Linked DNA regions of Homo sapiens: region 1 is linked to region 2. A link means that fine-mapping ties the variant in region 2 to the plasma level of a protein whose gene starts in the linked region. Region 2 holds a variant in brackets. A gene starts in the other region. All regions are shown on their reverse strands.

Region 1 (15,254 bases), not on the chromosome of region 2:
TCTGTGCAGCAAACCACCATGGCACACGTTTACAGTATGTAACAAACCTGCACATCCTACACATGTACCCCTGAGCTTAAAATAAAAGTTGAAGAAAAAAAAAAGAGACTGTAAAAAGAAACGCAGCCTAAAGTGATATCTGAGGAGAAACAGCCAGGGTGAGAATATGAAGTCATGAAAGACAAGGGAAGACCTTCTGCTGAGACAAGAGTGGCTAACAGTGCAGATGATACAGGGAGGTAACGGAAGATAAGGCTGAGAAATGACACTTCCAACTTAATTTTCTATAAACTGGTTCTACATTGTTTAGTATTTCTTTAAAAAATAAGATCTGTGTTTTGCAGCTTTCTGAATTTGTATACAGTTATTATGCTGGAGCCTTGTTGATGTAGTGGTAAGTTGTTGGAGAGGGCAAGAGTTCTATAATTTTTTTTTTTTTTGAGACGGAGTCTCGCTCTGTTGCCCAGGCTGGAGGGCAACAGCACCATCTCTGCTCACTGCAACCTCTGCCTCCCAGGTTCAAGTGATTCTCCTGCCTCAGCCTCCTGAGTAGCTGGGATTACAGGCGTGCACCACCATGCCCAGTTAATTTTTGTATTTTTAGTAGAGACAGGGTTTTCAACATGTTGGCCAGGCTGGTCTTGAACTCCTCACCTCGTGATCCACCCACCTCGGCCTCCCAAAGTGCTGGGATTACAGGCGTGAGCCACCACGCCCAGTCGAGAGTTCTATAATCTTATGATTAAATCTCAGTATTTTACTGGACCTGAGTCCCTGGGCCATGACTTTCAAAATAATTGCTTTTTTTTTTTTTTTTTAGATTGCCTGCATTTCTTTCTTTCTTTTTTTTTTTAATTATACTTTAAGTTTTAGGGTACATGTGCACAATGTGCAGGTTAGTTACATATGTATACATGTGCCATGCTGGTGTGCTGCACCCATTAACTCGTCATTTAGCATTACAAAATAATTTCTTAACCTTTGTGTTTTCTATCCTTACATGATACAGGATGGCTACAGGGCTAGTGGATTTTTCCCCAGGTAAGATAAGGCTCCGGTAAAGTAATTTCCCTTGGAGGGCAAGCCTTTGTTATACAAGATGCTCTGGGAATATTTTAAGATATTACTTTCCCCCTCCCTCTTGCAGGTAACATGAGGATATTTTTTTCCAGTCTTCAACATGAGAACTTGGTGGACTTCTAGAGGTAAAATCCACAAAACTGTGTGTCTCTCTTTCAGACTGGGCACCCAGGAGTTTTTAACTCTCAAGCAATTCATCACTGTCACCATTTAAGTATTTCTGCCAGTTTATTAAAAGTTATAGAATCCTTTAGTAAATATATGATCTTTTTCCTTTAAAAGATGAATGAAACAGACAAAGCTTTGACAATGCTAATTTTTAAAAGAAGAACCCTCAAATACCTAGATGTTAGAGTAAACAAGTACACAAGTACACAAGGACACAATGTGTAGCGTGTCCCGTCAGGCCCAGCCCCGCCCAGCCCAGTTCAGACCCTGTGATAGTACATCCCATGATGATCTTGGGGAACCCATGGGAGAGGAAACAGATTACTTAGAGTCATTTAGTCAGCAGGCAGGGAGTGGGTGGAAGCCCAGAAATAGAACCCTGGGCACAGTCCTTGAGTGGGGGTTGAGAAAACCTAGGGCCAAGATGCCCCCACAAGGGTCTTTTCTTAGACCTGTCCTCCCTGCCTGGGTCCCCAGAGGCCAGGTAGAACCCACCTCACAGGGACCAGCAGGCCCTGGCCCAAGGCCCCAAGCTAAAGCCCCCTGCCTTGGCATGTTTAAAACCTTGAGTGATGAGGAGTCTCAGCTTCAAAAAATGTGGGGGAAGATAAGAAAAACTGCAGGGCCCATGGTGGAGACCAAAAATTCTTCCTCCTGGTGAAAACAGGCTGAGGTGTAAATAACTCAGAGGGTTGCACCGCTCAGGGGATTTGCCTTTTGAGAAATCACTCCAGCCAAAAGCAATGCTTAACGCTGCAGGCTATAAACCCCACTGGGACAGGGACTGTGAATTCATCTCAGGGTCCCCAGTGCCTGGCAAGCACCTGTTACCTAGAAAGTGTGCAATGAATCAGCATATTAAAATTTTTTATTTACTTGTGGTAAACACTTAACATGAGATTTACCCTGTTAAATTTTGAAGTATACAATGCAATATAGCTGACTGTAGGGACAGTGTGGTCCAGCAGATCTCTAGAGCTTATTCATCTTGCTTGACTGAAATTTTATGCCCATTGATTATCATAAAGTAATTTTTAAGAATGAAAGTAATGCATTGTTAATGGGCAGAATATAGTCGTTTGAGGTTAGAAAGTCAGAATCGCTGGGAGCTGCCCACTCTGATTTCTCTGAGTTCCTTCTTTTTTTATTTTGGTCTTTCCTGTGGGGACTCTTTCCTCGAATGTCTAGTCACCAGGCTTTTGGTTCCATATGAGTCAACAGAAGCCCACTGGAAGCTCTAGAGGCTTGGTGGGCTTCTTATCCAAGGTCCCCACCTTCGGGTGATGGAGAAGAACCTGGCTGTTCTGCTGGGGGCCCTCAAATGTCATTTGAGTTTGGTAGTCTGAGTTTTGGTAACTTTTCTCTTAGGCTGGCCAGCTTTTCCTTGAGAGGAATTTTTCAGTCCTCTTACTGGGGCTCTGGGAGCCTAGCGGGGGGAAAGCCTGGAAGTTCTGAGCATCCCATGTACAGACTTTCATTTAATTCCTCAGTCCTTCTTCTCAGTCTTCAGTCTAACACCCTCCCCACCCACTACAGCCCCCACACCATCCTCTGCTGGGCCAGGTATTACTGAGTCTTCAGTCCCTCTGGACCATCCCCATATTTAATGGGGATGAAGAAGATCCAGGGGTCCAACAGGTCACCCACACTTACTGTTGTCAGCTTTAGCCCACTTGGCAACTTTCTGCTGACTCCTGCACATTTTCAGGGTCCTTTGGCCTGAGTTCTCTTTTTTCCTGTGGGCTTCCCCACCTGCAGCCTGATCACCAGACATTTGAGGAAAGAGGCCCCACATGAAAGACCAAGGTTTCAGCTTTTTCAGGTCTGTGAAGCCTGTTTCACCTGTTCATTCTGTTGTCACAAACAGTTTCACCTGTTCATTCTGTTTTCACCTTCCAAACATTTGTTGGCATCTCTTATCTATTTTAATTTCCTCTTCTGTTTGCTTTGTCCTAGTAGATTTATACCATTTTATTCCTTTAACTGTGATTTCAAGGGATTTCAGGAGAGAGTGGAGATAAATACCTATGCTCAATCTGCCACACGAAATGGGTACACCTTGCTTTTTTCCTTTAACAATATATTGAGGACATTTTTGTTTCATTTTAATGACGTATGGAATTTCAGGCTCCAGTTGGTGACACTTAAGGCAGTTTTAGGTTTATGCTATTTTAAGAAATGCTGCAATGGGACATTATTATTGTACAACAATAATTATGTGTAGAAATAAAGAAAGGAGAGAAAAAAGAGAGGGACAGAGAGAAAGGGGGTGAGACAGAGAGAAGGAGGTGGGGAGGAGGGAAGGAGTCCATGCAGAATGTCAGGTATCTGAAGACAGCAGGTCAGGGAGAGGTGTAGGGGTCTGAATGGGTTGTACTTCCAGTCCTGGCCCATATCATGACCTAGGCCTGACTCTCCCCTTCTAGTTCTACTGCCCACTACATGCCAACTGCTTCAGGCTCAAACCTGTTAATGGTGAAAGAAACAACTACCACTGGGATATGGTCCACTGGAAACAGGAAACAGGCTGATGTTTAGACATGCAAGGCCAGAATCCACGTGGCCAGAGAGGATTCAAGGTGCTTTCTGTCCCCAGAGAGTGCCCTGACTCCAGGATATGAGTTTCACCATGACTGAAGCCCACACCAGCCTGCAGCCACTAGCTCCACCTCTGCCTGGGAGCCAGGCCTGTCCAAAGATAACCAAATGGAAAGGGAAGAACCTGGAAACCTCCACTTTAGCTCTGGAAGGCTTGCAAATTCCCTGGCTTCTCTTTCTTCCACTGCAATATGGGGAGCATAGCTTCTGCTAATACATTAAGAGGTCTTAAGGGGTGGTATGCACTTCTCACATCAACCAGCTTCTTACTAAGCACTTGACGTTGAGTTACAAGGGATGTTGAAGGAATAGTATTCAATAATCAACTCATTCAACAGATGTCTATTGAGGTCAGTTCTTTATACAGGCACCTGGTTTTTGGTGCACAGCAATGAACAAAGAGACACGGTCACTGCTCTTGGGGCTTCCAGTCTAGAGAGAGTTACAGACATTAAATACGTAAGCTCACAAAATAAATATGTAATTGCAAATTAGGATAAGGTCTGGGGAGGAAAAATAAACACCTTTTCAGGAGAGAGTAGCAGAACTGCCCTGCCATGGAGAAATACGCAGATATAGGGAAGCCTCTTCAGGAGGTGACAGCAGAGACCAGCCCTGGAGGATGAGAATGAGAAGGAGAACACATCCCAGGCAAAGGGTGCTGTGCCAAGACCCTGAGATTGGAAAAGGCTTGACACACTCACGTTCATGAAATAGAACTGGGGTGCTCAGGGTGGCGTGACCAGCACAAGGCTGAGAGGTAGGCGGGTGGCCTAATGGAAAAACACACAAACTGACTGTATTCTACTATTCTCACACTCACTCTCCATACTTCATTTCTGAGACCAGAGGTGTGGGGATTTCTCTCCACACCCAAACAACTCTCCAGCAGACACCAACAGGGTATCCTATAATTTAATTCCATTCTGACACTATCCATCTGGAGTGAGTCAGATCTACAGGCTGAGGGCTCAGTCCCACAAGGCTGCCCCCACTTCAGAGGCCAATCACAAGTCCCAGGTGGTGAGCTGTGCTTCAATCAAGCAGCTAAAAACTGGGGTTCCCATGACGCCCTTCCTCTGCTCTTCCTCTGCTAGAGCAGCTCACAGAACTCACAAAAACACTTACTTACATTGACCCATTGATTTAAAGGATATTACAAAGGATACAGAGGAGCAGCCAGATGGAAGAGATGCATAGTGCGAGGAAGATGGGAAGGGGCTTGGAGCTGCTCTCCTCTCTCCATGTGTTCAGTAGCCTTGAAGCTCTTTAAACCCCATGGATCATGGATTTTGTTTGTTTGTTTGTTTGTTTGTTTGTCTGTAGAAAGGGGGTCTCACTAGGTTGAGACCTAGTTGTTCAGGAGGTCAAGGTTGTTCAGGCTGGTCTCAAACTCCTGAACTCAAGAAATCCTCCTGCCTCTGCACCCCAAAGTGCTGGGATTTCAGGCATAAGCCACTGCACCCAGCCTAGTTAATGGACTTTTATGCAGGCTTCCCCACATAAGCATGATTACGTGGTCTTCAGCCCCACTCCCCTTCCCAGAGGATGGGGGGTGGAGCTGAAGGTTCCAAACTTCTCATCATGGCTTGGTCTTTCTGGTGACCAACCCCCCTCCAGATGCCCACAAAGAGGCACCTCTTTGGAACAAAAGATGCTCCTAGTACCCAGGAAGTTCCAAGGGCTTAGGAGTTCTGTGTCAAAACTAGGGTCAAAGGCTAAACATTAGAACAAGAGATGCACCTAGAACCCCTATTTCTCAAGAAATTTTAAGGGTTTTAGGAGCTCCGTGCCAGAAATTGGGGACAAAGACCAAATATACATTTCTTATATCACAATATCATAGTGGGCCAGATCATGCAGAGAGGTCACATTAATTAATTAATTAATTCAATAGATATGGATTAAGCACCTACTATGTGCTGGGAAATATTCTGGGTACTAGACAAAGAGGACTAAACAAGAAAAGTCCCTCCTCTCATGAAGCTTACATTCTAGTGGTAGGAAACAGACACTACACACAAATGAATGAATGAATGAATGAATTCAGCCATGAAAGTACTTAGGAGAAAATAAATCATCAGGAGAGAACAGAGAGTGACTTGAGGGGAGGGCACTACTTTCTATGAGTGGTCAGGAAAAGCATGAATGAGGAGAAGGAGCCAGCTGTGTGAAGATCACAGAGAAGAACATTGTGGGCAGAGGCAATGGCAGGTGCAAAGGTATCAGGAGAACCCGCCCCTGAATATTCAACGTGGGCCCTTTTCTATTTTTCCTAAGTGTCAGTCGGTCTGAGAAATAAAGGGAAAGAGTACAAAAGAGAGAAATTTTAAAGCTGGGTGTCCGGGGGAGACATCACATGTCAGCAGGTTCCATGATGCCCCCCAAGCTGCAAAACCAGCAAGTTTTTATTAGTGATTTTCGAAAGGGGAGGGAGTGTATGAATAGGGTGTGGGTCACAAAGATCACATGCTTCACAAGGTAATAAAATATTACAAGGCAAATGGAGGCAGGGCGAGATCACAGGACCGGGGCGAAATTAAAATTGCTAATGAAGTTTCGGGCATGCATTGTCATTGATGACATCTTATCAGGAGACAGGGTTTGAGAGCAGACAAGCGGTCTGACCAAAATTTATTAAGCAGGAATTTCCTCATCCTAATAAGCCTGGGAGTGCTACGGGAGACTGGTGCTTATTTCATCCCTTATCTACAACAGTAAAAGACAGATGTCCCCAGAGCGGCCATTTTAGAGACCTCCCCCTAGGAATGCATTCTCTTTCTCAGGGATGTTCCTTGCTGAGAAAAAGAATTCAGCGATATTTCTCCTATTTGCTTTTGAAAGAAGAGAAATATAGCTCTGTCCCACCTGGCTGTCAGGCAGCCAGACCTAATGGTTATCTCCCTTGTTCCCTGAACATCGCTGTTATCCTGTTCTTTTTTCAAGGTGCCCAGATTTCATATTGTTTAAACAATTTATGCAGTTAACGCAATCCTCACGGAGTCCTGAGGCAACATACATCCTCAGTTTACAAAGATGGCGGGATTAAGAGATTAAAGTAAAGACAGGCATAGGAAATCACAAGAATATTGATTGGGGAAGTGATAAATGTCCATGAAATCTTCACAATTTATGTTCAGAGATTGCAGTAAAGACAGGCGTAAGAAATTATAAAAGTATTAATTTGAGGAACTAATAAATGTCCATGAAATTTTCACAATTTATGTTCTTCTGCCATGGCTTCAGCCGGTCCCTCCGTTCAGGGTCCCTGACTTCCCGCAACATCTCTCCCTTTCTTTTTATATAAATGTGCCATGGCGATGAAGGCTTGTTCATTCTCTCGATTTTGATGCAGGATTCTTTGACTTGTCTGACACACTAAAGACAAGCTGGTTAAACAGAGAAACATAATTCCAAAATTTACTAGAGTGGGGCCTCCAATAGACTTAATCAAAGTCGTGGGGTTTAGTCCATAAAGATTTTCTGCCACCTGATCTAACGCCTCAGCTCCAGGCACAATGGATAAGTGAGCCTGAGAGGCTTCAAAAATTTGTTTTTTTAATTTAGTTATGTCCAGTGATAAATTATCTTCCCTGCCAAGAAGGTGTCCTTTGAAAGAACATTGTCCTAATGAAAGAATAGAGTTAGAGTGTTCTAGAGGTAGAGTTAAGGAGTTGATATTTTATTTTAAGTGGGAACCATTGCAAGGTCTTAGCAGGAAAGCAACAGGATCTGATTTAAGTTTCTCAAAGTGTACTCTGGCTGCTGTGTGGAGAATGGATTGCAGAGGCAAGAGAATTAGGAAGGAAGGCAGGTAGGAGGCTCTTCTGGGGACAGGGTGGGAGTTGACGGTGGTTAGGAGGTGGAGGAGATGGAGCAGGAGGCAGGATGTCTAATAGGTCCTGATCATTGAGGGTGAGGAAAGGGAAGGATCAAGGACACTTCCTGGGTGACTTGGAGACCCGGATAGGTGGTGATGTCTTTTACTGCTAAGGGGAAGAACACGGTGGGACGTGGGAAGGAACAGTTAACAAACATTAATTGAAGACCCCCTGTATGCTTGGTGCTGAGGGACACATAGAGAGGTGTGGAGAGAGGCCCCACTCTGCCTGGCTATGGACAGTCCAGCTACAGAGATGAGATGCTCACATGAAGCAAGAGAAAAAGGTGTGATACCAACCATCAAGATGCAGTCCCATGAGATCTGGCTGGCGTCCTCCCACCTACAAAGCCCTCTCACACATTATCTATTCGATCCACATCATTACCAAATAAGATAGGTAGTATTATCCCCATTTTACAGATGAGAAAACCAAGGCTTGGAGAGGCTGTGACTAGCCCCAGCTCAGCCAGCCAGGTTGGATGCAAATCAGCAGAAGCTTTAGAATTTCTATACAGGCATCTGCTCTGCAGTAGGGTGGGACGGGGACTTGCTTTGAAGCCTCATTTTATATCAAGCACACTGGTTTTACTTGGTTTGGGCTTTGGCAGTGGCTGAGAAAGGGGTGGGAGAAGCCAATGGGGCTGGAAAGGAGAGTATAAAATCTATGAAAGTAATTTATTGGTGATATCCATTGAGATACACCCAGTTCTGTCTGTCTCCAAGCCAGGGTTCTTTCCTATTCTGGATGGAAGGAGTTGTTCCAAGATAGCAGAAGGTAGTATGGAGTACATTGACTGTGGAAGAGGCAAGGCTTAACTCAGAGTGATCTCTGTAGGACTTGAGGGCCAGGGAGGGCAGCCCCAGGAGGGACACAATTTAGGAGCAAAGGTGTGGTGGGCTGTTAATTGAAGTTTGCTGAAGGCATCAGAGACCTCTCAGTTCTACACATGGGCAATCTGTACTGGTGGCTGGGACCTGCCTACTTAGGTGGGAACTCTGGGTCAGTCCCTGGGGAAGGCTCCTCCCCAGCTTTGGTGGACATGGGCCTGCCTTCTGCTCCCAGGTCTCAGCCTCCAGGCAGGGACTTATTCCTTGAAATCTTGCAATTCAGGTCTGGCCATCAGGTGAGCCCAGGATGTGCCCTACTAGACTGAGGCATACTGTAAAATAAATCCAGGCTGGCAAGGCATTGTATCTCTCTCCTCTCCCTCCAGCCATGTCCAGTGCCCTTTTACACAGAGCCCCTCAGCAGAGATCACCCCCACCTGCCTACCTCAACCAGTGGTTCTCAACCGACAGGACACAGAGTTTTTAATGATGTCCCACTGTCCCTGCATGTATCGTGGGCAGTTTCCTCACTGAGAGGCTCCATCAGTGAACATCTGGTGTGTTTGTTATAACTTCCTTCCCTTTCTCTCTTTGTCCAGCAACCTACTTATTCTCAAAGCTCTGTTCAAGCATCACTCCACTGGCTTTCCCACCCCACCCTGGCTGGTGTTTCTCCTTGAGCTCCTTTGCTCCCTGTGCCCACCTTCATTTACCACGTGTCATTTCTGCTGTATATGGTGTGAGGGGCCTAACTTTGATTCTTTCCAGATTGGTAGACAATTAAGTCATTGGCATTTATAAAACATCTTTTTCTTATTCATTTGAACTGCTACCTTCATTGCACACACCCTCTCCATATATGCTCAGACCTACCTCTGTTTGTCTGTCCTGGTGGCAATTCCATGCTATTTTAATCCCAATGGAATTATAATAAGTTTTGTATAGTGTGTCACCATCATTACTGGTTTTGTATTTTAGTTGACAAAAATTGACATTTGTTATGATATTGTTTTCCCGTGCAAGAACATGTTCAGATCCTATTGCAAATTTATATCCTGTGGGTAAGTTTTATAGATTCTACTATTAAACTTATTATTGTTATTAAATTTATTTATAAATATTTTATAGATTTTGACACTTCTGTGAATCAGACATTTCCTTCACTTCTATTTCTAATTGGTTATTGCTAATGTAGAGAAAAGCTATTCATTTTTGTACATTCACCTTAAATCCAGCCATATTACCAAACTCTGTTATTATTTTTGATCTGTTTTTCTAGAAAACCTAAAGACAATAGGGGATGGGGCAGTGTTTGGAGAAACTCAGATTCTGGGCACTGCAGTGCATGTCCTCCTGGGGACATGAGGCATAGCGAGAAATTCATGAAACTGACAGGTCAGTTGTGTATATGGAGGCGGGGGCGAGATAAGGTGGCCCCTAACTCTCCAGAGAAGCCTCTCCTCCCCGAGGCTCAGGACCTCCCAGTCCTCACTCCTGCATCCCACTCTCACTCCCCCACCACCAAGGAGCTGAGGCACCTCTGCACATCTCAGGTGACCCTGAACAGGCTCTTTTGCAGGATCCCCAAGAGAAAGGGCTGACCACAGCAGAAACAGAAGCCATGACTGCAGCAGGGAAAGGGAGGACTTAGGGCTGGTCCATCTGAGTGCTGAGGTCCAACACTCTCAGGGGCCTCGAAGAGGTTACTAGAGCCCTCTGACACCCCTAGACCAGCAGAAGTGGCAGCACTTGGCAGAACCAGGAATAATAGCAGCCACCATGGAGTGCGTTCCCAACAGTCCTCTGAGGATTCCCCTTTACAGATGAAGAAACTGGAGTTCAGGGAAATTAAGGAACTCACTTCAGTTTACACAGATAGTAAATGGCAGAGGAGGAATTCAAACTCAGGAACCTAACTCCACAGCCTGCCGCACCCAATATTCCCACGTGGCCATCTAGGCCATTCATGTTAAGCCCACCGGCCAAAGACTGGATCCCCTAGAAACTGCAGAGCTTTCTCAGGGACCCTGGAGTTCATGCATACACCAGACATTGTCTGCAGACATTACAGTAATATGTGCCCACTTGGGTCCTGTGGTGAATTGAATGGTGACCCCCTCCCACCCCCCGCAAAGGATAACTTCACCTGGAATCTCAGAAGGTGACTGTATTTGTAATAGGGGTCTTTGCAAATGTAATGAAGGTAAAGATCTCAAGATGAGATCATCTTGGATTAGAATGTCCTTCTCAGAGACAGAAAGGAGGGGACATACAGAGACACAGCGAGGAAGGGCGTGTAAAAATGGAGGCAGGCAGAGGCTGGAACGATGCCGTTGCATGCCCAGGAATGCCACAGGCCATCCGAAGCTGGAAGCTGCTGGGAAGTATTCGCCCCTGGAGCCTTCGGAGGAAGCATGGCCCTGCCAACTCCTTGTTTCCAGGCTTCTGACCTCCAGAACTGTGAAAGAATAAACTTCTGTTGTTTCAAATCACCTGTTTGGTGGCCATTTGTTACAGAAGCTCTGGGAAACCGACACAAATGTCCACCATTCTTCTGTTTTTTTTTTTTTGTTTTTTTTTTTTTGATGGAGTTTCACTCTTGTTGCCCAGGCTGGAGTGCAGTGGCGCGATCTCGGCTCACCACAACCTCCGCCTCCTGGGTTCAAGCAATTCTCCTGCCTCAGCCTCCCGAGTAACTGGGATTACAGGCATGTGCCACCATGCCAGGCTAATTTTGTATTTTTAGTAAAGATGGGGTTTCTCCATGTTGGTTAGGCTGGTCTCGAACTCCTGATCTCAGGTGATCTACCTGCCTCGGCCTCTCAAAGTGCTGGAATTACATGTGTAAGCCACCATGCCTGGCCCAAATGTCCACCATTATTATTCTTCATAAGAAACATAGGCATTTCAAGCCATTACCAAACTTATAGTCACTATTTATCATTATCTATTTTTCTCCATCAATGGATATGCAACTATTACTATCATGAAAAGTAAATTATATTTGCAACCCCATTATCTTCTAGATGGAGAAACAGTTTGAGAGAGGGCAGTGGAGAAGCAAGAGAGCTGGTCTGGAACCCAGCTGCCTGACTCGTGAGTCATTTCTCTTCCTCCAAAGCCCTATTAAGTCTGGGGCTGCTTATGGTCCTCACCAACTACACAAAGAAAGTCAGGGTCATGCTCATCCATCAGGAGGTTCAGGGCCACTTCCCGCTTTCCTCTGTTTGGCAACACTAAGAGTCACCCTCTGATTGTTCCAGAAAAGCAAGAATTGCTAAAGGCCATTGTGTCAAGTTTGCCCAATTCATGCTGCTTGACATCTTACCCCTCCCCACCCTGCTCCCATCCCCCCCACCCAGTGCCCCTGATTGCAACACTCCTGGCTGGGGTGGGACAGGGTGGCCAGATAAAAGCAGAGCAGGACCTGGAAAGCTGGTTTGTATGGGCTGCAGCCTGCCGCTGAGCTGCATCATGGTGCGGTCTGTGGCCTGGGCAGGTGAGCCGTCGGATAGTGGGCTGGGTCTCGGGAGCTGTGGGGAGGTGGGGATGTGGATGTTCAGGGACCACTTGCTACCATTTGCAAGGAAGCAGGAGGACTCAGGAGAACTTCAGAGGGTCATTTTATCCCTCTCCATGCCTCCTGGCTTGCAGTCCCTTGATTACCTTTCCTGTGGGCTCCCCCTTAGGCTCTTTCAGCCCAAGAGACTTCATGTTGCAAGGGAAGGCTTTTCTCAACAGGCTGAAGATGACTTGACTTTCCTCTCTCTGTCCTGAAAGCCCAGAGTCAATGAGGCCCCTGCACTGGGTCTTTGTGTCTTTCCCATGTTCTTAGGTCCCTCCTGTTGGCCTTATCCAAGAAGCGCCCACTGCCAAGAACCTCTTCTCCAACCTCATATTGTCTGTCCTGCAAGAGGGCAGCCTGGGGCCAAGATCCTGGGCATCCTTGCAAATTTTCATGGAGGTTCTATTAGGTTGACAGAGAAGTCCAAGGTCACCAGGTGAAAGAGATCTCTTCGAAGGAGTCCTGTCAGACCCTAGGTCTCCAAGGCTGTGGTTGCCTACCACAGCCAGGTAGCGGAAAGGCAACAGGAAGCCATAAACGATGGGAGCAGAGGCACAGGCCCTCCCCAGGAGATGAACTCTCTCCATGCAGCCCTTCCAGATTGATTCTTTCTAGCCCCAAAACAGGCTTGTTTCTTGTTCCGAAAGAGAAACTATCTCTCTAAATAACTCACAAGTCAGCAGTTTTTCCACAATCTTCCTGAATCCACACTGCCCTTTACTGAGGTATAGAGAGGGGGCAGCCTCAGCCCATGGAACTTTCCATCAGCTTCTAGGACCAACCCAGGCCAGGAAGAGACCCCCGTGGTCTGGTCTGCATGAAGGGATGGGCACAGTGCCCTCCTGGGTCCCTTCTGAAAGGAGAAAGCTTGATTTGTATGAAATCAGCCCTCCCTGACCACCTCCTGTGCTTCCGTAAGCTGTGGGGCCTGGGAAGGTGAGAATGGCAGCATAACCCTGGCCTTCTCTCTTGTGTTGCTCCAGGTTTCATGGTCCTGCTGATGATCCCATGGGGTAAGTAGCCTCTTTCTTGGCTGCCTCAGCCCCTTCCCTGGGCTCTGCTTAATGTCCCAAAACACCTTCCCTGCCAGACCTCCCCAAGAGCTCCAGATTTCAGTGGGGACTCTCTTCCAAAGCTCAGACCCCTGCAAATGTCCCCATCTGCTACCAGCCCTCCCAGGAAGGCTCTTGCCTCCTTATCCATTAGCTGAGCTCCTGCACATCTGTGGGGCCAGCTTGCGCATCAGCCTCTTTCAGGGCTTTCCTTTCCTGGGGTTGCTGGCTCCCTCCTCTGCACTCTGTGCTCTTGCAGCACCTGTGTGTTTTACAGTACAGTACTGCCTCTCATTATTGGCTTAGGTGTCTCTCTGCACCAGTCTCAGACTCCAAGTTGCTGCAGGTAAGGAACCTAAGTCTCATCTGGTTCAGCATCCCCAGCCCCTTAGCTCTGCGAGGACAACACACTTGCTTCTGGTCTGTTGAACTGATCAGATGTGGAGCTTGAGAGAGGCAGGAGGGAGCTCCTTGTTGTGTCAAATGGAAAAGAGACCTGGGGGACCTTCAGCAACTTGAACTCCTGGTCCCCGTCTTGTCCCACCCCATTCCCTGGGCATCAGTGGCCTGGGAATGCTGGCCTCTCAGAACTTGTCCTGCGACTGTGCCTCTCACGCTGGGCTGTAGCATTGGAGGTACATTTCCCTCTCAGCCTCATAGGATGGAACAGCCGGGGGCACAGAAACAGCAAACATGGGGAAGATGAGAGGTGGAAGATTTCTCAAAAAGCTTTAGTCCAGGCTACTTCTGGGCTTTCTGCAGTATAGTAATAATAGTAGGACTTTGTGTGGACTAAGGGTTAATATATGTGAAGCACCTAGAACAGAACTTCTTCCTTGCAGTGTTCCTCCGAGTGTTTTACATATATTAACTTTAGCCCACACTGGGGTCCTGTGACACACATTGTGGAAGGTCCAATGGTCTCCCCGTTTCACACAGGAGGAAGCTGAGTCGCACAGCGAGTAAGTTGCAAAGTTGGGATTTCAACCCAGACACTGACATGCCAGAGTCCCTGCTGTTAACCACTGCACTTTATTTTCTCCATAGTACAGAAATTCATAACAATATTTGATATGCGACAGCATGACATGATAGAAAAAGAGCTTCCTGGCTCCTTCCTACATGGCCTGGGGGATGAGTTATCTGGTTTCATCCCCTCCTTCCTTTCTTTTCCTTTGGGGAGTTCACCAATTCTCCTGTATCATTGCAGGCTACACCCCAGCCCCACTAGCAAGCTGCACTCCTGGGTGACCTCTGGTTAGAGACAGTGACCACTCCGGGGCCACGTGTATGCCCAAGGTCAGCCCTCCATGCTCTCGGGTTCTAGTTGAGGCCTGCCTGAGCGGTCTCTTCCCAAAACTCTCCTATAGACACTTTGCACCCCTCCTCTTCCTCGTCCCATCCCTGTCCATGTGGGCATTGGAGGGGGTACAGACAGACCCTGCTGGGGCAAAGGGAAGTCCCAGGTTCTAGACACCAGCCACAGGCACGCTCCAGTCCAAACTCACTGCTCCATCAAGATCTTGGCATAAAATGTTGGCTCATACAAACCACACCATCATAGATTGAGAGACTGGAAGAGACCCCACAGACCACACAGTCATTATCAGATGGGGCCGGGATTGAAGATGAGATAGACCCAAAGTCTATTTTTGGCAGATGCTGGAATGAAGACTAGCATTCTTGCTTCCTGGTGTCCTGGTCAACCCTGCACAGGGCTGACCTCAGTGGGGGTCATCACCACCGAGCCCTCACTGGGAATAGACCATCCCACCCCTGCAAAGTCTTTTCACACACTGTAGGGTACTCTAGAGACAAGTACCCTACAGTGTGTGGGGTACTTAGAGACAAGATGCCTTCTCCTAGATAAAATTAGCTCTATTAGAATCTCAGCAGTGATATTGATAAACGTAGATTATCTACAAGGGATAACAAGCAAATGCAAATGGCTTTAATGCAAGACTAAAGAAACATAAACCCAGGCCTGTAACTGGGGCCTCCTCTCTGCTACTTATCTGTTTGCATTTTAACGAAGTATTCTGAGGTATTCCAAACCGTTTTTGAAAGTTCTGCCTGCCTT
Region 2 (15,254 bases):
TAATTTTTTGTGTTTTTTAGTAGAGACGGGGTTTCACTGTGTTAGCCAGGATGGTCTCGATCTCCTGACCTCGTGATCCGTCCGCCTCAGCCTCCCAAAGTGCTGGGATTACAGGCGTGAGCCACCGCGCCCGGCCTGTTTGTTTTTTTTTTAAGCATTACTAGCGGTTCCTCAATATTCCTTCTCCTCCTCGCTGCCTTTGATTATCCGTATATGGACTGAGTCTAAGCATGTAAATTACATGCAACTTCATTTTTCACTTTGTCTCTCAATTACTTGGGAGCCACTTTCTTTCTCTTGCTTTGTTGATACATATTTAGGAAATACACATCTCATTTTGCTTTCATATTAATCCAAGTGAAGTTTGAAGGTAAATTTACCACAAACAAAAAAATTACAAAGGACATTCCAAAGTCAAAAAAATTAATATTTAATTGCACAGCTTTAGGGTTTTTTGTTTTTTTATTTTATTTTATTTTATTTTTTCTTGTTTTGGTAGATTTTTTTTTTTAATACTTTAAGTTTTAGGGTACCTGTGAACAATGTGCAGGTTAGTTACATATGTATACATGTGCAATGCTGGTGTGTTGCACCCATTAACTTGTCATTTAGCATTAGGTATATCTCCTAATGCTATCCCTCCCCCCTCCCCCGACCCCACAACAGTCCCCAGAGTGTGATGTTCCTCTTCCTGTGTCCATGTGTTCTCATTGTTCAATTCCCACCTATGAGTGAGAACATGCAGTGTTTGGTTTTTTGTCCTTGCGATAGTTTACTGAGAATGATGATTTCCAATTTCATCCATGTCCCTACAAAGGATATAAACTCATCATTTTTTATGGCTGCATAATATTCCATGGTGTATATGTGCCACATTTTCTCAGGATACAAAATCAATGTACAAAAATCACAAGCATTCTTATACACCAATAACAGACAAACAGCCAAATCATGAGTGAACTCCCATTCACAATTGCTTCAAAGAGAATAAAATACCTAGGAATCCAGCTTACAAGGGATGTGAAGGACCTCTTCAAGGAGAACTACAAACCACTGCTCAATGAAATAAAAGAGGATACAAAGAAATGGAAGAACATTCCATACTCATGGGTAGGAAGAATCAATATCGTGAAAATGGCCATACTGCCCAAGGTAATTTATAGATTCAATGCCATCCCCATCAAGCTACCAATGACTTTCTTCACAGAATTGGAAAAAACTACTTTAAAGTTCATATGGAACCAGAAAAGAGCCCACAACGCCAAGTCAATCCTAAGCCAAAAGAACAAAGCTGGAGGCATCACACTACCTGACTTCAAACTATACTACAAGGCTACGGTAACCAAAAGAGCATGGTACTGGTACCAAAACAGAGATATAGATCAATGGAACAGAACAGAGCCCTCAGAAATAACGCTGCATATCTACAACTATCTGATCTTTGACAAACCTGAGAAAAACAAGCAATGGGGAAAAGATTCCCTATTTAATAAATGGTGCTGGGAAAACTGGCTAGCCATATGTAGAAAGCTGAAACTGGATCCCTTCCTGACACCTTATACAAAAATTAATTCAAGATGGATTAAAGACTTACATGTTAGACCTAAAACCATAAAAACCCAAAAGAAAACCTAGGCATTACGATTCAGGACATAGGCATGGGCAAGGACTTCATGTCTAAAACACCAAAAGCAATGGCAACAAAAGCCAAAATTGACAAATAAGATCTAATTAAACTAAAGAGCTTCTGCACAGCAAAAGAAACTACCATCAGAGTGAACAGGCAACCTACAAAATGGGAGAAAATTTTCGCAACCTACTCATCTGACAAAGGGCTAATATCCAGAATCTACAATGAACTCAAACAAATTTACAGGAAAAAAACAAACAACCCCATCAAAAAGTGGGCGAAGGACATGAGCAGACACTTCTCAAAAGAAGACATTTATGCAGCCAAAAAACACATGAAAAAATGCTCACCATCACTGGCCATCAGAGAAATGCAAATCAAAACCACAATGAGATACCATCTCACACCAGTTAGAATGTTTTTTGTTTTTTTAACAGAGTCTCGCTCTGTTGCCCAGGAGTAGTGCAGTGGCGCGATCTCGGCTCACTGCAACCTCTGCCTCCTGGGTTCAAGTGGTTCTCCTGCCTCAGCCTCCTGAGTAGCTGGGATTGCAGGTGTGCGCCACCATGCCTGGCTAATTTTTGTAATTTTAGTACAGAAGGGTTTTCACCATATTGGTCAGGCTGGTCTTGAACTCCTGACTGCAGGTGATCCACCCACCTCGGCCTCCCAAAGTGCTGGTATTACAGGCATGAGCCACTGCGCCCGGCCAGCTTTAGGTTTGCTATGTAAGTATAGATGATTTCCGTGTGCCCTTGAAAGCATTGTATATATGTGTATGTGGACATATGTAAAACCTCTAGCCACGAAGCCCTATAGTACAGTCATGCACCAGGACCAGACTGGTATTTACTTAATCCATGGTTCTTTTAAGCTGATCCCGTACATAGTAATAATAATAATAGCAGCAGCAGCAGAAGCAATAGTGCTTATAACTTACCAAGAACTTGCTACCTCTTAGGCACCATGTTAAATGGTCTAACTTTTTAATATAAAAAATTATGTAATAGATACTATTATACCCCCTTAATGATAAGGACAATCAAGCCTCAGAGAGTTGAAGTAACCTTGTCCAGCATCCCTGGATGAATAATTAGTCACTGACAGGATCTGAGCTGTGGTTGTCTAATCCCAAAGTCCAAGCAGCTGCTGTTTAGTTATTTGAAGTAAGGACAGCACAGACAGGAAGAGCAGGAGGAATACTACAAGGATTCACTCAAGTATGAATTCAAAAGAGTGTGTCATTACTGCACCCCACTGGAACCAAGACAGAGGCCCCAGGAGCAGAGGCCAGGAGGCCCTCAGAGGGTCCCTAATGCATATGTGAGAGACACAGCCTAGAGGACCAATCCAGGGAAAGCGCAGTGAGGAAAGGATCAAATGAAATGATTCATCCATTTGCCCAGCGCATAGAGTTACATGCACACGATTGGGCCCCACTGTCAGTGTCAGCGTTTACACTGTAGAGCCACCCATGTACAGGCCATAGAGAGATTCATTGCAATTTTCTCTCATGTGGACTTCAAAGCCTTGTTCACCAGTGTACACTGGAAAACTTAACTACCTGGTTGCTACAATAACTGTGCCTTTACAAATTAGACTCAAAACAATGTTTTGTGAATTAAATCCCATTTAAAACAAACTGGGATAGCTGGGCCTTTAATAATATTAAGTGTAATGATACACAATAATAATAAACCATGGTTAATTATTTTGTAAAGTGAAGAATTACTGAGAAATAATTCCCAAATTTCTTTTTAAAACCTAAGTATTATCCTAAGATGTCAGATCACCTCTTGTTCACCTCCCATAGATTTCAGTATCTGCCTCACACATAGTAAATTTAATATACATGCAAAGGAGGTGGGAACCCTATGATAATAATTCATATTTTGATGTCTTTTTTCAATCTCTCTCACATATGTTCTCATATCAGATGTGAATTAAGTAGTTCAAACTCATACAGTTAGAGTGTTTTGCAGTTTAAAAATTGCTCCCTATCACCACTCCCTTTTAACAGAGAAGGAAGAATGAGGCTCAGAGAGAGGTAATTTAGCGAAGGTCACCCATCTGGAAAATGATCGAGTCAGGATTTTAATTCATGTCTTTTTAAAACCAGCATATCATGAAGACAGGATTTTAGTCCATGTCTTTTAAATCTGGCATATCATGGGACTTTTAAAGCTCAAACACTGGATGATTTTTGAGCTATTTTGAGGGGAATGGTAATTGACATTTAAAGATATCATGTCTCTTAGCAACCACAGGAGTTTCATGGAGTTCATTTGATCTTCAACGAGATTCACACCCTGAACCAGGCTAACCTATATGAAACTGTTGCCCTGCCTAGGTTCCCAGGGGCCATGCAGGACACAGCATATTTTGCTGTTTCTGGGTTGGGGGAGGGGGAGAGAGAGAGAAAGAGAGAGAGGGGGATGGGGTGACTGTGACTAAGGGGCATGTCATCAACCAGAAATGGATTTAAAAAAATTCTTGCCCTTTCCCTGATACTGAGTTGGCCAGGGTACAGTCGACTTGCTAAAAGGGCAAGAACAAACTCCAGTTTACAACTCCAAAGGGAGGGATAGCACAGATTTCATACTTTTCCTCTTCAGTATTCTCATACCCTGGTGCTGTGCTGTTCTAAAGAATCTGTTCTTTTCTGTGCAACTATAAAAAAGCACCACTTGCTCTTTTGGTAACAAATTTGGACATGGAAGCACAGTTTTTTTTCCCCTCCCTCCCAATGTATCTATTTCATATTTGTTTGTATATTTATTCATTTATCTTTAAATAAACACAGCATAAAAAGGCAATTTTTCTGCGAAAAGAAACTACAATTGCAATCTCACCATCCTAACTCATCAACCATTTTCATTTTGGGAGTTTTTAGCAGGTGTGAGTGTGCACACATGATGCTCCTCCAGATGCAACGTGGTGGTCTGCTTCTGTGCTTCACTCAGTATTAGGATGCAAACAATCCCCATGCTTTGAGCACACTTGCTAATACCTTTTCGCTGATCCTTAAAATGTAAATCTGATGTAGGACAGTTTTAACATATGTTAATATAGGAGTTAAAATCACAAAGATAAGAACTTCAGAGAAAATAAAAGTCAAACTGGGTGAGATTGTTCACTTCCCTAGGACAGCTGTCCCATCTCGCTGCACATGAACAGGTTACAGAACTGGCTCAGGGTTATTCACTCACAGAGGGTTCTACATACAATAATAGCACACTCATCAATCAATGCACAAGCCCTACTTTGTATCAGGAATAGTGGTAGGCACTGGCAATACTAACATAGGGAAGATACATTTTTCTATTCTTAGGAAATTCAGAATATAAAGGCAAAAACAGACGTTGAAACTGATAAATTTTAATGCAATAGACACTGCAGACATATAGAGGGGGGTATAGGTCTTTAAAGAAGGGATCAGTGACCCCAGAGAATCCAGGAAGTCTCCCTAGAGAAGGGGGCATTTGGTGGCATTCATTTGAACACAAGCACATTTGCTCTTCTAGGGCTATTTCCCTAAATAACGCTTCTCTGCATTTTCTCTCTGTTCTGTTCTCTCTCAGTTTGTCTCCTCTCCACTCTCCATGGCTCCCCATTCTCTCTTGGGGAAAGATAGCTTTACTTTGCAGACTGGTAGAAAATAGTAGTCTAAACATTATTATGGCATGCCTGAAATGCTGTCTTTCCCTGGCTTCCACTGGCTCTGGAGGCCCATTAAAGTTTTATTTTATTTTTTTAAAAAGGCTTCTCCCTCCAATTCCTGTCTGCTGTGAGCTGTGTGTAAAGCAAACAAAGTCACAGATAATGTCAACACAATGCACAAGGAAGCCAACGGTAATAGCGTACACTGTAAATTGAATGTAAAATGACCACAGATTAGTATATAATTGGTTGTGTTTCTAAAGCTGTGATTGTTCTTTTTCTTTGAGGCCCTGTACCTCCAGAGATCAGGGGAGAAGAACTGTTAATATTTAATAAGCTTTCCTCTGACCTGGGGCTCTGGAGGAAGGTGACCGTAGATCCAGATGTACAATCTCCAGCAGGGACACAGCCATCCTGAAAGCCCCCGGGTATTCCCTCATTCTCCCTCAGAGCAGTGGGAAGAGCACTGGAAAGGCAGCGAAACCCAGGGCGCCGAGTTCAGGAATGTTTGTACTGGTCCCTTGCTTTCATCCCTGTCACTATCGGACTCATTTCCAGTGCCCAGGTATCCATTCACACCATGTAAACTGCTGTTTCAAGTTCTCTCATTCAGGTACCCCCATTTTTACCGTCAATGGCTTTTTCCCCGTAAAGAAGCTAAGTTTGGCTTGACATCTCTACAGGGCTCCTCTTCATAGGCAACCAGGAGCTGAGAAGACCTCATTCATGCTGAGATAGTCCTGTCTTCAAGAGAAAGTGAGTCTAATATGTGGCTTTGCAAATACGGCTACCTGCACTCTGCATCTTCCCACCCCACGCTTGCTCAAACATCCTTCAGCATGCTCCTGAGTTGTTGGAACCTTGAGTATTAAATTCTCAAATGGAATGGGACTGCTGCTGTCTTGCTATCTTGCCTGGCTCCCCGCCTCCAAATAACTTCCAGGTGCCAGCCCACTGCCTTGGGGCCTGCTCTGAGATAGTTCTCCATCAGAGCTTTGGGTAGAAAAAGACAGAAGAGATGTGGCTCCTCTTGTGCCCTGAGAGTTGCTCTCGGCTCATGCTGGGACCCTTTTCTGTGGCTGGCTGCTTCCATGCTCCACATGGGCAAATGGGGGCAATATGCCTCCATGGTTTTACAGTGTTATAAATTATTTTTTATTTATTTTATTTTATTTTTATGTTTCTTTTTAGAGAGCCTTGTCTTACTGTGTTGACCAGCCTGGAGTGCAGTGGTGTGATCATGGCTCACTGCAGCCTCGAACTCCTGGGTTCAAGTGATTTTTCCTGCCTTAACTTCTCTAGTACTTGGGACTACAGGCATGTGTCACCAACCTGGCTAATATTTGTATTTATTTTGTAGAGACAAAGTTTTGCTATGTTGACCAGGCTGGTCTCAAACTCCTGACCTCAAGTGATTTTCCTGCTTGGCCACCCAAAGTGCTGGGATTATAGGCGTGAGCCACTATGCCTGGCCAGTTATGAATTCTTTATGTGCATTTTGAGGACTCATTTGAATCCAGGCTCATGTACCACCTAAGACAGATTGCTAAAATACCTTCCATTCCATAAGTAAATTTTGCATACTTATTGAATTATTTGAAAATATATATGTGTGTGTGTGTATATATATATAACATTGACTATATATATAGTCATTATAACATTATATATATATATAACATTGACTAATGAATCCTATTGTTACCCAGATGTAACTGGGTGCATAGATAAAATGGAAGCTCAGCAAATGTTAAATGGAAAGGAGAGAGGGGGGAAGGGAGAAATAATACTATAAGATAGGCACAAATATTGTGATATGAAAGACAAGGTCACTGACGACTGGAAAATTTAGTTAGCTCTCAAAGTAGCATAGACTGTAAAAGCAGACCACTTTCTAGTTACATAGTATTGGTCAAGTTGCTTAACTGCTCTCAGCCTGTTTCCTCATTGGTAAATCCATGTGGCTTTATGAATTAAATAAGAAAATGCATCCAGGAAAACTTTGCATAGTACATATCACATAGTTGGAGCTTAATCAATATTGTCGATCAGTATTATGACAGGAGCTTGCACAGTGAGCATACAGTGGAACCAGTGGTTGGAACAACATCTAACTCTAAAATCTGCCCCTGTTCCACTGCTGTGGGGCTTCTATGAGGCCACATTTGCTGCCATCTCTGTTCTTTCTCTCAGAGTCCAGTTCTAGGAAGCTGATCCATCACTGCCTGCTGAATCGCTCCTGATAGGGATCTAGCTATGAACAACACGTGTTTCCAGCTCTCTAGTTGCTTAGGTCTTGTCTCCCCATAAGCTCAGGAGGCAGCTGAGGAAGCCCATGGGCCTTGCCACCAGGATTGTACAAGAGGGGCCCAGCGAGGACCATAGGGACTCTTCCATGCCAGATTATAGCCCTGTGGAACCTCTGCCTGGAAAATGAGATCAGGTGGGGAGATAAGGGGCTGTGTACAAAATAGTGATTGGAGAAGAAAAATAGGAAACCAACAAAACAGCTCTTTACTTAAGCCGCATGACCATGCACATCACTCGAGTATTCACCTGCAGTAGCCGTGGAAGACGTCCAGGGATTTCCGAGAATCCAGAGAAAGCTGGCTAAAATGATCCAGGGCACAGGTGGGGCTTGCAGAAAAACTAGACAATGAGAATCTTTCAACCCCGAAAGATGGTGGTTTATATGGCCAAAAATCTAAAAACAAATAAATAAATAGCAAAAATAACTAGGTAATACAACCACAAATATTCTTCATCACCAAATGCCAGATTATTTAGAGAAAACCATTTGAACCTATAGCACATAGCTAAGGAAAAGATAAGGAAATGCCAAATTATGAAATGGGTAAGAAAGAAACAAGGAATCTATTGCTTTTAAAATAGCATTATTAAAAACTATTCTTTATTACCTATACCCTGCCTATCCCCCCCCCCCAAAAAAAGGATTTGAGGCTGCAGTTCAAAATGAAAACGACTTTGGGATAAACAAAAGGAGGCCCTTGCCTACAGGAGCATCCTGAAGTGGGAAGGTCATTTTTCTCCTCAGAGGTTGACTTCCATGTCTCTGCGTAGGCAGGTCCCCACACCCCTGATACCATGATGCTGAAATATAGCCTGGTAGGTACTTCCTCCAGTCTCATTTACAGACCAAAAAATTGAGGCCTAGGGAGGGGGGAGCATCTAAACAGCACAGAGTTA[T/G]CTAGTGGATAGTCAGTGTCTGACTGGGAAAATGGAAACCATGCTGAGTGTTTAAAACAGAGGGGATTTAATGCAGGGAACTGGATGCACAGCTCATGGGGATGCAGAAAAGCCAACAGGGGCCAGGGAAGCAACCCAACATTAACAACAGCAGAAAGCCACAGGACTCCTGGCTGGAAGGGAAAAGGAGAAGCAGGATGGTGGGAGTTTAGGGGCCGCTCTCTGGATTCTGGAAGCCCACTGGTATCTCCTGTGGGAGCTGGTCCCACAGAAGTTATGGACTGATGCCTGGCCTGCTGCCTGAGGCAGGGAGGAAGGAGGAGAAATACCCTGGCTGTTCCTTTACTTCCATCCTCCCATCACCTCCCAGTTCCTCCCATTGGTCAAATCTAGCAGGAAGCCTGGAGACACAGTTGGAGTGGATGATGCAGGACAGAGCAGGGGAAGAGCCTGCTCTTCACCAGATAGTCATTCCTTGGGCACCCCCATAGGCAATGCTAGCTGTCCAGGGTTCTTCCTGGTTCAACATCCTACCTTTTGGGGCAATCATCAGAACTACTTTCTGACGTGCAACCTATAGGGGCTGTGTCGTATTTCGTCAATGAATGCATTCCTGGTAAGTTTCCCAATGAGGAAAATAGTTCACACACAATGTAACTCTGAATGGCAAGTGTTACCTTAATGCATTTGTTTGTATTTCCAGATACTGGGGTATTTTTTTCTTCACGAGGGAGTCTTCTGGGAAATATAGGCATCTTAAATTTTCCTATTTAAAGTGGAAGCATTGCCAAGAAGTGGTTTGTGGAGGTAATGATTTTAGCTCCCTAAAATAGCCATCAGTTCCCCTAAGCTATAACAAATAGACAATCTAAGTGACCCCATGAACTGGCTGTACGTATGCAGTCTCCCGTCTCTACCTTGAAAATTAATTACAGCCCCAAGACCTCTAGAGGAACTCTAGAGCTGCCCCTTACCAAGAGGCAGGAGTAAGGTTCAGAATACTTAGCAACCCCCTTAGCACAGGCACTGACCAATCAGAAAGCTGGAGTGGTATCAAAGCATTGTCCTGGAGACCCCCTGTGCGTCACAGGTTAACCCTTTAGGTGTGGCATTTTTGGGGTAGTAATGTGGCGTGGTCAGAGCATGGCAATTTACCAACCTACTTAGAAGCATTTTGTTAGCTTGATAACCATTATGGCTATACTGGTGCATACTGGCTGAATATCAACATTACCGTGAGGTTCCTGGAACAGGGTGCTGACGGACAGAATGGGGAACCTTTTCATGTGTCCCAGAAAAAGGGTCTTAACTGCTAGTACTGGGTTGCCTGTATACCTCTATTTTATCCCCGAGGTTATTGACCTCTGTTTTTGCCCCAGGGCAGTGACATCTCTAAAGTACTCAGGAACTCTTGAGTAATAATAATATATTACATAATACTAATATGCATTGAACACATATCATGCATCAGGTATGAATATGTTATTTGATTTATCTCATTTAATTCTCACAAGTCACATAAGTCTCACAAGTACATAACTTGTACGCAGGTCTCAGTCCCCAGCACAGTGCCAGGCACGTGGATACATGGCACGAGGATGAAGAAACTGACTACAGATGCTAGTGGAATAAATGAAAGATTGAGAAGCTCTTCCCCACTCATGGCCAAGTTTTGGGGGACTTTTTGTTATTTGTTTTTTTTTTTCTTTTTCCAAGATCTTCCTAAAAAAGCAGAACCTTTGCCCAGACAGGGCAAGCATGTCACGAAGTTCTGCTTTCACTGTGTGTTAAGTGGAAATGATTAGGCAAGCAAGTAGTAAGAGATTCCTCTCTGTGTCTTCTTCCTGTGTGGGGCAGTCCTGCTGTGGACCTCTGCACACTCAGGCTGACAGTGCAAACTATGATGATTTTCACTGATAACCCTAGGATATACCTCATTCATTTGTCATCATGGCTTTTCACACAGAATGTTGCTGAAGGGGCTACTTCCTGGATGCATACACAGGTGTGAAGATGCTAGTGCATGTGCATGTTTGTGTGTGTCCAGGACTGACTTGAATGACTTGGTGTTTGATCACAGTAATGGCACTTGATCCAAGCGCCCATGGCTGATGAAGTTCTGCCCTTGGGCTGTGAGATCTGAATGAGGTACAGAAAACTTCTGCCCCTACAACAATGACAACTGTTTTCACCATGACTACCATTTGCTGAGCACTTACTCTGTGTTAAGATAAGCATTGTACATCCCAATATGTAACCAGTGGTCCTGTGAGATCTCATTCTCCCTATTTTACAGGTGGGCAGACTTTCTCAGCTCTCAATGGGGCATGGTAGGGCAACCTAACTGCCTGCCTCTGGGCATGTCCCAGCTGAACTGGCTGGAACATGGGATGAAGTGGAGCATTTTGGTTGGTTAAGCTTTAGTCTGGGAGTTGGTAATGTGTCAGAGATTCTCAAACCAGGCTACAGGTTAGAATCCCCTGAGAAGCTTTCTAAAAATACGAATGATGGGACTTCTCCCCAGATCAATTAAATCAGAATTGTTAAGGATGCAGCCACAGCATTGTTTTTGTTTTGTTCTTAACTCTCCAGCTGATTTTAATGAGTAACTATGGTTGAGAACCACTGCCTTGGGCTCTAGTTTTGACCTCATCTATTAGGCAGGTCATTTGTCTTGAGTTGCCTTAACTGTAAAAGAGATTCTGTAGTGGAAGCAGCCCATCTCCCAGAAATGGGAGCAAGGGCTTAGGAGCTAAAATCAGAGAATTCAGATGTCAGAGCCCCAACTCCATCAGTTACTAGCCATGTGACTGTGAACAAGCTACTTAACTTTTCTTAGTATCAGGCAACAACTAAACTTATGTGACTTGTGAGAATTAAATGAGATAAATCAAATAACATATTCATACCTGATGCATGATATGTGTTCAATGCATATTAGTATTATGTAATATATTATCATTATTCAAGAGTTCCTGAGTACTTTAGAAGAACTGGCTACCCAAGACTGTGGTTGTCTTGTAATGATTTGGCGTTGTTACAGTGAACCGTGGTTTTCAAGTTCTCAGAAATGGGAAATGGGGCCTAAATTAAGGGGAGGGAGGAAAAAAAATAGACCTAGGCACCCAAAACTATGAGATGTTTTCCAGTAGGAGAGAAAGGGTGGTCTGATTGATATCTTCAGGCAGAAGAAGGGAGCCCCCTTCAGAAACCAGCCTAAGGAGTGGCCAGGTTTCCTTAGCAGTTAAGTGAGCTTAGGTGGGTTTTGAAAATGTCCCTTACACACACAACTCACTGGGGTTAGATGAACTTCAACTGAAGGCCACCAACGGGAATGGACAGTGCACCTTGGGCTTTGCAGAGGCTGCAAGTCCAGGAAACTCCAGGAGCTCCGGAATGAAGATTAATGCACTTCCTGAATTCACCCTGAGTTGATGCTCTGGACTCCCCATGCGTGCAAAGCATCTCCACCAGCTGCCAGCACATGACTAAGACTCTGCAAGGCAAAAGCTCACCCTTTGCCCTGACAATGCAATAGTCTAGCCTAATAAAAGAGGCAGCTGGACCCTGCCTACTTGGAAAATAAATGCATTTAAATAACTCCCAGAAGGAAGAAAAAAAAAGCTTTTACAAGTTTGAACACAGGAAGGATACACTCAGAGGTCTCATCTGTTGTCTGTCTGTGGGTGACACCCCATTTTTTCAGCATGGAATTTTACTTAGCCACACTGGGAAAGCTGAGTGGCTTCCCTGGGGTTTTGCTCTCCTTACTGCAGGATTATATCATGCAGAAGAGTCTGGAGCATGGGTTCTGAAAAGGCTCCATGTGGCCCCCAGGCACCGCCAGCTTGGAGTCTAGATCCGGAGACTCACAGTCTGGGAAACGTACACAACAGCATCTCAGACAATGATGCCCCAGGCTCACAGGAACGAATGAAAGCAGTGCTGCTCATGTATGTGTGTATTGGGGGGGATGAGAATAATTGAACTTCTAGTTCAGATTGCCTATTAATTTAAGATTTGCTTCTCTTTGAATCAAACTTAAGTTTATAACTTGAACTAGTCCATTCATTTACCACGTGGTGTTCTGTCCCAGGGCACACAGAAATGCCCCCAGGGCACACTGGTGGATCTTCGGGTATTGTTTGAAGCAGGTTCCGAAGGCCGTCCTTGTTACTGGGACTAGAATGGTTAAGAAAACTCTCGTGCGACTTTGCTGCAAAAACAGACATTTCAGGGCTTCAAGCAGGAAGAGTTATGGTGCTATAAGATGAGGATCTCAGTTCCAAATGGACCCCAATCAGGAAGTGACTCCATCTGCCAAAAGGAGAAGCTCTAGCTTTCCAATCATTGCAGGGTGCAGGCAGTACAGTTAGCAAGAAGCCATGGGGCGTTCATCTTAGACAGAGAAGTCATTTCTGGGTTAAATAATAGACTAGCAGCCAGTGTGTTTTGGAACATATTTGAAAAATCATTTAAGCCTCAAATCCTACTGATAAGCACATGGCACCTAAGAGCAAACACATTAGCAGAGACTGAGTCTAATGACTTCAAATAGGAAGGAGGATCCTAAAACAAGGACAACATCCGTGCGAGTCCAACAGCACCGGGAATAGCACTGTGGGATACAGGAAAGAGTCTGCAAGGACAGCCACGCTGGGCCGTGGCAACGTCTGTTCATAACACTGCCTGGTGGTCACTGGCAGGCCACAGAGGAGCACCTATGAGTTTGTATCAGAACCCACAAGCTGTCAGCTGTCACTGCCCTCCTCTCTAAGCTCTTCTCTGCTCTCCACCAATTCAAACTCTGTCTGCACTAAAGTATTAAGAAATACTATGTGTGTTGCAGGGCGGGGCGGGGGTGGGGGTGGGGGGGCTGGTTATTGATAGTCCTGCAGGGAAGCTGGGTGAGGAAGTTCTTATCATACAATACTTGAAACCGGGTAAAGTGTGTTGAACACACTTCTTCTCCTCCCAAGCCCTTTTCTGAGGGCCTTCAGTGAGGCCTTCTTTTCCTGTGATTCTTCCCCAAACAGACCTCAGCCCAATTCTCACCTTCTCCTTTCTTCCTCTCTCCTGGATGTTTTCTTCCTGTGACACCCAAATCCTCCTTCTCTTATCTGAAGAGTGGTTTCCTACTACCTTCTGGAACTGGGGCACCTGCTGGCACCCAGCCCAGGAGGCTCCCTTCCACCCCAGTGGCAGGCTTATCAAAGTGCATCTCAGTCCCAGCAGCTCTCTTGCTAAGAGGGGCTTCCTCATGCCCTGCAAAGATTAATTCACTCAGCACATACTTGGGGCCTACTTTGTGCCAGGATCCTCTTCTGGTGAACAAAACAGATAACAATCACAGCTTTTGGAGCTTCCATTCTCATGGAGGAAATCAAGGTTTATCTAATACATACACATTGCCAAATGATGTGTGTGTGTGTGTGTGTGTGTGTGTGTGTGAATCAGCAGACAAATCTAGATAATTCTCACTCCAACATGTGGGTTCTGTCATTGTCAATCAATCCTTCTGGCATTTTCGACATCTAATTGCTCTTCTCCTGTAAGGAGATGGGTGGATAGAGAGCAGCTCAGCTGGGGGTAATTCCTACAAGGGTTTTACAAAGCATGCTACCTCAGGGCCTCTCACAGATGCGGTCTTTAGAACAGTATGGCCTAGATGGGCATGGCAGAGCAGGGCTGAGTGGCCAAGGGGGAAGAGGATATTATGGGGGAGCCAGGAAATCAGAACGAGCAAAGCAAGGAGTGGTGGAACTGCATATGAGAAGTAGTACAAGAAAATACTGGAGGCTAGCCGGGCGTGGTGGCTCATGCCTGTAATCCCAGCACTTTGGGAGGCCGCAGTGGGCAGATCACTTGAGGTCAGGAGTTCGAGATCACCCTGGCCAACATGGCAAAATCATGCCTCTACTAAAAATACAAAAATTAGCCGGGCATGGTGGTGCAGGCCTGTAATCCCAGCTACTAGGGAGGCTGAGGCAGGAGAATCACTTGAACCCAGGAGGCGGAGGTTGCAGTGAGCCGAGATCACCCCACTGGCCTCTAGCTTGGGTGACAAAGTGAAGGAAGGAAGGAAGGAAGGAAGGAAGGAAGGAAGGAAGGAAGGAAGGAAGGCGAAGGAAGGAAATACTGGAGGCAGAAAGGAGGTGGCTTTGTAGGTGCCTGAGGTTGAGCCAGATTCCTTTAAGGAAATGATTCTAGATACACACTCCACACCTGAAATATCCTTTCCCTTCTTCCTCTCCACTTAGCCCTTCAAATCCTCCTCTTTGCACAAGCCCCACAAAGACAGGGATCTTGTCAGTCTTGCTCAGAACAATTCTTTGCAAATAGTAGGTATTAATTATTGGTGGAGCAAATGATGGGTTCAGATGAACTGCCGTTACCTCCTCTGAAGCTTCCCAGCCCACCTCAGCTTCATGATTCTCTCTCTTCTGAATTGAAGCTTCTGAAGGTCTCCTGGCAAGAAGCTATTGCAGTGCAGAAAGCACATAGGATCAAATCCTGGCTCCACCTCTTACTGAATGTTTCCAAATGTCCAAATTAAATGTTTCCACTTCAATTCTCTCCATCCTCAGTGTTCTCATCTACAAATGGGGTTATTTTTCCCAGGTCTCTAGTGAGAACCACAGGAAAGATGTATAGGTAAGAAAGTCCCTGACACTTCAAACCATGAATTCAGCAAGTATTTTGGACTGTCATTCAACGTATCTTTTATAATTGCTTCAAATTATTTAGCTTTCTAACT

Which allele goes with the higher level. Alleles are on the strand shown, and positions count from the first base shown. The strength of an association depends on the size of the effect and on how common the allele is.
In carriers of allele G in region 2, the plasma level of the protein whose gene starts at base 11,995 in region 1 tends to be lower than with T alone (weak association).

What was found. A credible set is the group of variants that fine-mapping cannot tell apart. PIP is the posterior inclusion probability: the model's chance that the variant is causal. The UK Biobank Pharma Proteomics Project read protein levels with antibody pairs (Olink). The fine-mapping took linkage between variants from a reference panel, not from the people measured, so its PIPs are less certain.
Region 1: CHIT1 starts here. The variant in region 2 is the best candidate, but not a certain one, in a credible set for the plasma level of the CHIT1 protein (UK Biobank, PIP 0.73).

Annotation. Positions count from the first base shown.
Region 1 is chr1:203,226,414-203,241,667 of GRCh38, reverse strand. CHIT1 (chitinase 1) reads left to right here and starts at 11,995. Exons shown (of 11, transcript NM_003465.3): 1 at 11,995-12,056; 2 at 13,106-13,135. The coding sequence starts at 12,032.
Region 2 is chr10:62,615,843-62,631,096 of GRCh38, reverse strand. LOC105378327 (a long non-coding RNA gene) reads left to right here. Exons shown (of 3, transcript XR_946002.3): 2 at 5,974-6,046; 3 at 6,482-6,893. Among named protein-coding and RNA genes, the nearest start is that of ADO, 180 kb to the left of the region's middle. The variant T/G (reference allele first, on the strand shown) is at 8,498.